2 separate regions of the Homo sapiens genome follow, and region 2 is linked to region 1. Evidence: fine-mapped expression QTL. A gene starts in region 1. The other region holds a variant in brackets. All regions are shown on one strand. Distances are from middle to middle.

Region 1 (4,381 bases):
ACCAGAAAGCCGCAGAAAAGCACCAGCCAAGGCCGAGGCTGCGAGGGTGCTGGCGGGCAGGCCCATCACGGGGCTGGCTGTCCTGGTCCGCGATTCCTTGTCAGCCATTTTCCTCAGGGGGAGCGGCAAACGCCAACCTGGACTGAACTCATCTGGGGACAACCCTGGCTTGGAGGAGGGTCATGTGGCTATTTGCAGACTTTACTTCTCTTACTGTGAACACCCATGTGCTCTGCTGCCTAAAACATAACATGTTTGACAATGTGATGCGGCCCAGACCTACCATGGATGCCATGTCACGTACGTACTATGCATCCGACAACAGGGCCAGGAAGCAGAAGGTTCCGGAACACGACTTTCCCAGAGAGCTCAGATAAGAACCCGTGGGCATGTCAGCTCATTCAGTCCTCATGACCCCCTCCGCCCACCATGAGGAAGGTCCATTCTTTCTTCCTCATTTAACAGATGAGGAAATGAAGGCACAGAGAGGTTAAGAAGCTTGTTCTCGGTCACACAGCTAGGACAGAGGTGGATTTGAACCCAGGCAGTATGGCTGGGGTTACCATCCTGGCCTTTTTGAACATGTCCGGGAGGGCAGGCCCTACCCAGCCACACAATGCCCAGTAACTCCTGCGGGTGACCTGCCCTGCCTCGTGGAGACTCCGTTATATCTGGGCCACCAAGGCAGGGGTTAGAGGTCTGTGTGAGCCCAGCACTGAGGTTCTCTCTGGGTTGAACCCACCTCAGAGATGTGCCTTGGGCAGGCCTGGCCTTCTGTAGAAGCTGTGAGGGTGAAGGTCTCCAGCCCTTAAAGAACTCTCCCCAACAAAAAAAACAGTCTCCTTCCCAGCTTGGGGCACTATGTGCTCGGCTGTGGCAGCTCCGTCTGTTCTTCCCCGCCTGCCCCCGGGCACCCGCAGGGGCGCCCATCAACTCAGGCAGCTCAAGCTGCAAGGAACAAAAGCTTCCCTCCAGGAGCCGGAGCTTGAGACTTCGCCCAGGTGGGGAGGAAGACGCAGCGAGACCTAAGCCTTCTTCCTCAGTTTTGTGTGGCAGCAAAGCTGGGTTCTGTGCTGGCGGTGGGCTCAGCACAAATGCCCCTCCGCATCACCCCACTTACATCTGCAATCCCCGGGCCCCCGTGGCCGCCCCCCCCACTTGCTTTGCTCCAAGGCACTTGGCACCTTCCAACAACCTAGAGCACAGAAGGACCTGCGCTGCTGGGGTCTCCCCCTCCCTCTCTGGACACTGAGCCTGATGGGGCAGGGGTCTGTGTTCCCAGCGCGAACCCCCGGCAAAGTCCCATACAGGGGGAGCTCAGGCAGGGTCAGCGGAGGGACCTGCGCCTGAATCCCGAAGTTCCACTCTGACTCACACAGCCTGGGCCCCCAGCTCTGACATGCCCCCTCTGATGGGGGGCGTCTCAGCCCCATTCCATCCTCCTGCAGCTGATGCACCTCCCAGCTTTCGGAGTGACTCCCTTCTTTCAAATCCGATGTCCCTGTCCTGCTCCTGCCAAATCTGGCCCCCTCCAACGTGGTACCTAAGGGTCCAGAGTCGAGGGTCGCCTTTGCTGTGCCCTCGCACCCCCTGGGGGCGGGCCTGGGGCAGTGGGTCCCAAGCCTGTCAGGATTGGGCCCACGCTACACCACGATAAACGCTGGGGCCACCCAGGGCAGCAGGTGCCGCGCCCCAACTCCATGAGGCCCTTGCTTTTCTCAGCGGGAAGTGACAGAAAACATTATTTTTCTAGTCAACCCATTCGGAGATGGAATAGAACAGACAGCAACATTCGCATGAAAATGTCACGATGAAAGCACTGAGGACTCGCAGGACACCAGCGGCACTGGGGAGGTGCTTTTGAGCTTGGTCCCCCGCACCCCGGGGGTCCCCGCCTTCTCCCTCTGCCGCATGAGAAACACTGGGGCCCAGGTGTTCTCAGCTCATTTGTCGCCTTCCCCACCATCTTAGAAAGCGACTGAGGTCTTTTGAATTCCAGGGGCTGGTCTGAACCTTCCAAGAGCACAGATTTTACTGACCTTAAGGCTCGGTGAACCCACAGCTGACAAAAGGTTCCAGAGAGGAGGAGGAGGGGCTGGCTTGGGGTCACGCAGCCAGAGGCAGGGGCTGAGCAAAGTTTCCAACAGCGATTGTCTCCCAAAGGTCAGCCCCTGCCCGATCGCGATGGCGGCCACCACAAGGCGGGGCTGAGCCAGTGGGCAGGGGTGGAGTGGGATGGAGCGGGACCCCCGACTGACAGCCTCCCGTCCTACCTGCGGTGAGCCTCCTAGGCCAGGCTGCTCGGGGCTGTCCTGCTGCTGGACCGCCGGGGGCAACGGCACTCACGTCCCACACCGTTGCGGGTGGCCTGGCTGGCAGGGGTCCCTGTGGGGATAGCGTGGCTGCGGTTGGTGAGGGATTGGGGTGGGAGGGGGGTGGCGGTGTTAGATTCTGCGGGCTCTGCTCTGAGCCCCCGCCCAGCCCAGAAACCCCACTAGCCTGGGGCCTGAGAACAGCCACGCCACTCCCTCCTGAGAGCCCACCGCGCCACAGCTTGGAGGAAGAGCCTGCGGGGAACTGGCTGCAGGACGCTCTCTTCTTGAGTGCAGGTTTGGCCAATGTCGGGGCCTCAGGGCTCGGGTTGGGGGGTGCATGCCAAGAGCCAGGGAAAGGAAGCCTGGGTCCCAGATGGACCCCAGGCCGCCCAGGCAGGCCTCCTATGAGTCTGCTGGGAGCATGGCTGGACTCTTTCTTAAAGAGGGGTATGGGCTCTCTGTGGGCCACGACTGGTTTCTGGATCCCCCAGGAACACTAGGGAACTCACAGCCTGGTTCCTCAAGGTGCTAAGGGCCAGAGGGTGCCACCCCCTGAACTATCCAGCAACTATCCAGAGAGAAAGGGGACATGGGGGACTGGCCCTTAACAGGATGCTGCTGAGGGCCAGGCAGGCGGCTGCCACCTGAGTGGGTGCAAAATGGCGCCAGGCTCCTTGGGAGGGCGGAGGGCGAGGCCTGTCATCTGGGCCAGGGGAGGCAGCGTCTGCATGTGGCCAACAGCAGTGGGGACATGGGCAGTGAGGCCAGGCTGGGGCAGGTGTGGCCCACCTCAACCGCCAGGGTGCCCCAGAGATGCCCAGCCCAGGGACATTCCTGGGCGCAGATTCAGAGCCAAGGGCCTGGAAAGGCTCCGAGGCCCCCAGTCCACAGTGAGCTCCTCACCAGAGGCTGCTGGCCCTGGAAGGGGAAAGTGGGGGCATTTCAGAGTCCAGTCCTTCCCAGCTCCTGCCATTCCTAGGGTCTGGGCTTCTGCCCCCACGGGCGCCCTGGCATCTGGCACCCCACCCTGTCCCAGCTCCTGCCTTCCTGCCTCTCTCCTCCTCATTACCCACCGCCCCCAACATCTGTTCCCCCATCTGCTCTGGGGAACTCTGGATGGGTGGAGAATGTGGGGACTCTGGTCTCCAGGCCCTGAGGCCCAGAATAGAGGGCAGGGTTGAGGTGAGCAGAAAGTCCCAGAACGCTAACTTCCGGTCCCCACACCCTGAGTTCTGAAGGGAACCCAGGTGTCTGCTTCCCCTGACCCCATGGGGATCCCACTGTCCCGCTCCCAAGCCCCAGAGCCACCCAGGTTCCAGCTCCCAGCATCCCTTTCCTCAGCTCAGCTCTCTGGGCTTTGCACTCGGGTGGGAAAGGGTTAAGGGTGGGGCGCTGGGGGTGGGTGGGCGGGTGGCAGGGAGGCTGGGTTGTTTGGTGATAATCCCCTTCCGTGCCCAGGGTGTGGAGAACAAGGTTAGGGCCCCATGTGGGAAAGGCAATGGCTCTGATCCCTGCAGGCCTGGGCCTCGGTCTCTCACTTCTGATCCCCCGCCAGACACCCCTAGCCTGTCCCCTTCCCTCCCCTCCCCAGGGCCTGCCAGGCTGGGTGTCTCTGAGCCCACCTGCCCACCTATCCCAGCCCCCAGGCAGTCCGAGCCTCAGTCTCCCAGCTCCCTGTGGCCTCTGGGTGCCTGGCCTCTGTCTCAGCCTCTCAGCCTCCTGTCTGTTCCTCTGTCTTTGCAGCAACTTCTCTGTGCCGAGCGCCTCCCCTAGGCTGACTGTCCTCTCTCTGCCTCTGTCCTGTCCTCTATTTCTTTGTGACTGAGTCTTCATCTGTCCCTAAGCCCCCTCTCCTGCCCAGCCCTGCTTGTCTCTGTGTCCCTCTCTAGGTTTCCACGTCTGCTGGCCTTGGCCAGCCCCTCTGCTCCAGCCGCTCACCGCTCCCCAGGGCCCCCTGCCCCTCGACACTGACGGATAACTCTGGGGTGTTAAGCTACGGATTAGTTCAGGCAAAATTCTCGATTTTGTCTGCGTTCTTTCCCCTTTGGGTTATGTAAACAGTAATT
Region 2 (4,381 bases), 20 kb before region 1:
TAATTATTAGTAGTATTACTTTTTGAGAGAGTTTTGCTCTTGTTGCCCAGGCTGGAGTGCAATGGCGTGATCTCAGCTCACTGCAACCGCCGCCTCACAAGTTCAAGGGATTCTCCTGCCTCAGCTTCCCAAAGTGCTGGGATTACAGACGTGAGCCACCTCGCCCTGCCTATTTCAAAAAAATTTTTAAATACAAATGGGCCCGGTGTGGTGACTCACACCTGTAATTCTAGCACTTTGGGAGGCCGAGGCAGGCGGATCAACTGAGGTCAGGAGTCAGAGACCAGCCTGGCCAACAAGGTGAAACCCCGTCCTTATAAGAATACAGAAATTAGCCATGGCCCAGCACAGTGGCTCATGCCTGTAATCCCAGCACTTTGGGAGGCCGAGGCAGGTGGATCACCTGAGGTCAGGAGTTTGAGACCAGTCTGGCCAACATGGTGAAACCCTGTCTCTACTAAAAATGCAAAAATCAGTGGGGCGTGGTGGCATGCACCTGTAATCCCAGCTACTTGGGAGGCTGAGGCAGGAGAATCGCTTGAACTTGGGAGGCGGAGGTTGCAGTAAACTGAGATTACACCATTGCACTCCAGCCTGGGAAACAAGAGCAAAACTCTGTCTCAAAAAAAAAAAAGATGGATGAGGAATTTTACTGAGAGAAGAGGCAGGCACCACCAGAGCTCCCAGCAGTCCTAACAGGAGGAAAGAGAAACCAGCAGCCACTCCCCAGCTTCAGCTAAGCAGCAGGAGGCTACCTACCAGCTACGGAGCTCCCTTCAAACAAACAAACAAAAAAATCAGATCAAGCTTCCCACTCTAACCACCAGTTTGCAGAAAACAGGAGGACAAAGTTCCCAGTGAAACGACACCATGAGGCAGCAATCAGCCCAGTCCAGAATGTGAGCCCGTCCACAGGACAAACGACCTGTTTCCCTGTGATTCAGCGACAAGGAAAAAAGAAACAGGGTGGGGCGGGGAAGTGGGGAGGTGAGCTGTCATAAAATATGCAAAACAGGCCAGGTGTGGTGGCTCACGCCTGTAATCCCAGCACTTTGGGAGGCTGAGTCGGGCGGATCACGAGGTCAGGAGATTGAGACCATCCTGGCTAATACAGTGAAACCCCGTCTCTACTAAAAATATATATAAAAAAAAAATTAGCCGGGCGTGGTGGTGGGTGCCTGTAGTCCCAGCTACTTGGGAGGCTGAGGCAGGAGAATGGCGTGAACCCCGGGGGCGGAGCTTGCAGTGAGCCGAGGTCACACCACTGCACTCCAGCCTGGGCGACAGAGCAAGACTCCCTCTCAAAAAAAAAAAAAAAAAAAAAACGCAAAACAGATTTGGGGCTCAGAGGCTTAGACTTTCCAACTCCATGAATGTCCCACAGATGTTCCAAAGTCATGGGAATGACCTGGGCGCAGTGGCTCATGCCTGCAATCCCAGCACTTTGGGAGGCCGAGGCAGGAGGATCACCTGAGGTCAGGAGTTTGAGACCAGCCTAGCCAACATTTTTTTTTAGTGAAACTCCATCTCTACTAAAAATACAAAATTAGCTGGGCATGGTGGTGCACGCCTGTAATCCCAGCTACTCAGGAGGCTAGGGGAGGAGAATTCCTTGAACCTGGGAGGCAGAGGTTGCAGTGAGCCGAGATGGTACCACTGCACTCCAGCCTGGGTGACAGAGCAAGACTCTGTCTCAAAAATAAAACAAAGTCCTGAGAATGCAGGACAAACCTTCATTGCGTAACTTTTATTGTCGCTGACCCCAGCCGCGTAAACGCTGTGGTAGCATCCTAGGACCTCCACTGTGACAACTAAAAACAACCCCCACAGATTCCCATAACTCCCCCAGGGGGACAGCACTCCGGAATTCAGGACTGTTGCCCTAAACCCTCTGTTTTCCATTTCAGCTTTCCCTTACTGGTGCACGCCCCCATGCTTGGCCACCACGGCCAATTTCAAGCTACCAATAAGAGATCATTGAACATGGAATTGGAAAGAAACGCACAGTAATACATTGTTCTATAGTAAGTCTTCTTACTATGGTAAACACTTACCAGCCAGTTCTCTGGAGAAAAAAACACACTGTATGTTAGTATCTGCCAAT[C/T]TGTGTGCCAATCAATGTATGTGCTCACTGCAACCTCCGCCTCCTGGGCTCAAATGAGTCTCCTGCCTTGGCCTCCTGAGTAGCTGGGACTACAGGTGCCCGTCACCACACTCAGTTAATTTTGTGTTTTTTTGTAGAGATGGGGTCTCACTATGTTACCCAGGCTGGCCTCGAACTCCTGAGCTCAAAGCGATCCTCCTGCCTCAGCCTCCCAAAGTGCTGGGATTACAGGTATGAACCATCTTGCCTGGCCTATTTACATTTATTATGTCTGTGTAATAGGCTTGCTATAGAACAATGTAATACTGTGCATTTCTTTCCAATTGCATGTTCAATGATCTCATATTGGTAGCTTGAAATTGGCCGTGGTGGCCAGGCATGGAGGCATGCACCTGTAATCTCAGCTACTCAGGAGGCTGAGGCAGGAGCATAGCTTGAAGCCAGAAGTTAAAGACCAGCCTGGGCAACATAGCAAGACCTTGTCTCTCTACAAAAAATAAAGAAAATTAGCCAGACATGGTGGCACATGTCTGTAGTCCCAGCTACTTGAGAGGCTGAGGCAAGAGGAGCCCAGGAGGTCCAGCGTCAGCTATGATCCTGACGCTGCACTCCAGCCTGAGTGACAGAGAAAGACCCTGCCTCTGAAAAATTAAAAAATAAATCTGGGCACAGTTGTTCACGCCTGTAATCTCAGCACTTTGGGAAGCTGAGGCAGGCAGATTGCTTGAGACCGGGAGTTCGAGACCAGCCTGGCTAACATGCTGTAACCCAGTCTCTACTAAAAATACAAAAATTACCTGGGTGTGGTGGTGCACACCTGTAGTCCCAGCTACTCGGGAAGCTGAGGCATGAGAATTGCTTGAACCTGGGAGGTGGAGGTTGCAGTGAGCTGAGATCACGCCACTGCACTCCAGCCTGGGTGACAGAACGAGACTCCATCTCAAGAAAAAAATAAGAAAAGTTTTTTTAAACACAAGTGTGTGAGGGTGGCTGTCCAGGGACACAAGGACACCGAAGAATGGTGATCAGTGCTTCCAGTATGGGGAAAAGTGGAACTCATTTATACAGGTAAAAATGGAGAGGTCAAACGCAGTGGCTAATGCCTGTAATCCCAGCACTTTGGGAGGCCAAGGCAGGTAGATCGTTTGAGGTCACGAGTTTGAGACCAGCCTGGTCAACATAGTGAAGCCCTGTCTCTACTAAAAAAAAAAAAATACAAAAATTAGCTGGCTGTGTGGTGGTGAGCACCTGTAATCTCAGCTACCTGGGAGGCTGAGGCAGAAGAATTGCTTGAACCTGGGAGGCAGAGGCGGGGTGGGGTGGAGGTTTCAGTGTTCCGAGATCGCACCACTGCACTCCAGCCTGGGCAAAAGAGCAAGACTCTGTCTAAAACAAACAAACAAACAAAACAAACAAAAAACCAACAACAACAACAACAAAAAATGGAGATCGTGAGCAGAATGACAGCATTTTGCATACAAAGGCTAACATACAGTTATAAGATTAGATTGACAGTTATAAAAGATTAGATTAGGTGCAGTGGCTCACACCTGTAATCCCAGCACTTTGAGAGGGTGGCGGGCTGATCATGAGGTCAGGAGTTTGAGAACAGCCTGGCCAACCCTGGTGAAATCCTGTCTCTACTAGATACAAAAAATTAGCCGGGCATGGTGGCTGTGCCTGTAATCCCAGCTACTCGGGAGGCTGAAGCAGAATTGCTTGAACCTGGGAGGCAGAGGTTGCACTGAGCCAATATCGTGCCATTGCACTCCAGCCTGGGTGACAGGGTGAGACTCCATCTCAAAAAACAAAACGAAAAAAAGGCCGGGCACGGTGGCTCACGCCTATAATCCCACCCAGCACTTTGGGAGGCTGAGGTGGGCGGATCATGAGGTCAAGAGATCGAGACCGTCGTGGCTAACATGGTGAAACCCCCATCTCTACTAAAAATTTAAAAAAAATTTTTTTAAATTAGCTGGGCATGGTGGCGGGCACCTGTAGTCCCAGCTACTCGGGAGGCTGAGGCAGGAGAATGGCGTGAACCCGGGAGGCAGAGCTTTCAGTGAGCTGAGATCACGCCACTGCACTCCAGCCTGGGCGACAGAGCGAGACTCCGTCTCAAAAAGAAAAAAAATTGTAGGCCGGGCACAGTGGCTCATGCCTGTAATCCCAGCACTTTGGGAGGCCGAGGTGGGCAGATTATGAAGTCAGGAGATCGAGACCATCCTGGCTAACATGGTGAAACCCCGTCTCTACTAAAACTACAAAAAGTAGCCA

What was found. PIP is the estimated chance that this variant, and not a neighbour inherited with it, causes the effect. A credible set is the group of variants that fine-mapping cannot tell apart.
Region 2: its variant is the best candidate, but not a certain one, in a credible set for the expression of NTN5 in whole blood (TOPMed, PIP 0.89).

What each region holds. Positions count from the first base shown.
Region 1 is chr19:48,671,160-48,675,540 of GRCh38, reverse strand. It overlaps NTN5 (netrin 5), which reads left to right and starts at 2,524. Exons shown (of 7, transcript NM_145807.4): 1 at 2,524-2,609. LOC105372431 (a long non-coding RNA gene) reads left to right here. Exons shown (of 3, transcript XR_936016.3): 2 at 1-300; 3 at 1,754-2,395. It also overlaps the pseudogene SEC1P. RefSeq lists a silencer at 1-45 and enhancers at 1-318, 319-967.
Region 2 is chr19:48,691,189-48,695,569 of GRCh38, reverse strand. No RefSeq gene overlaps it. Among named protein-coding and RNA genes, the nearest start is that of FUT2, 2.6 kb to the left of the region's middle. RefSeq lists an enhancer at 1-328. The variant C/T (reference allele first, on the strand shown) is at 2,105.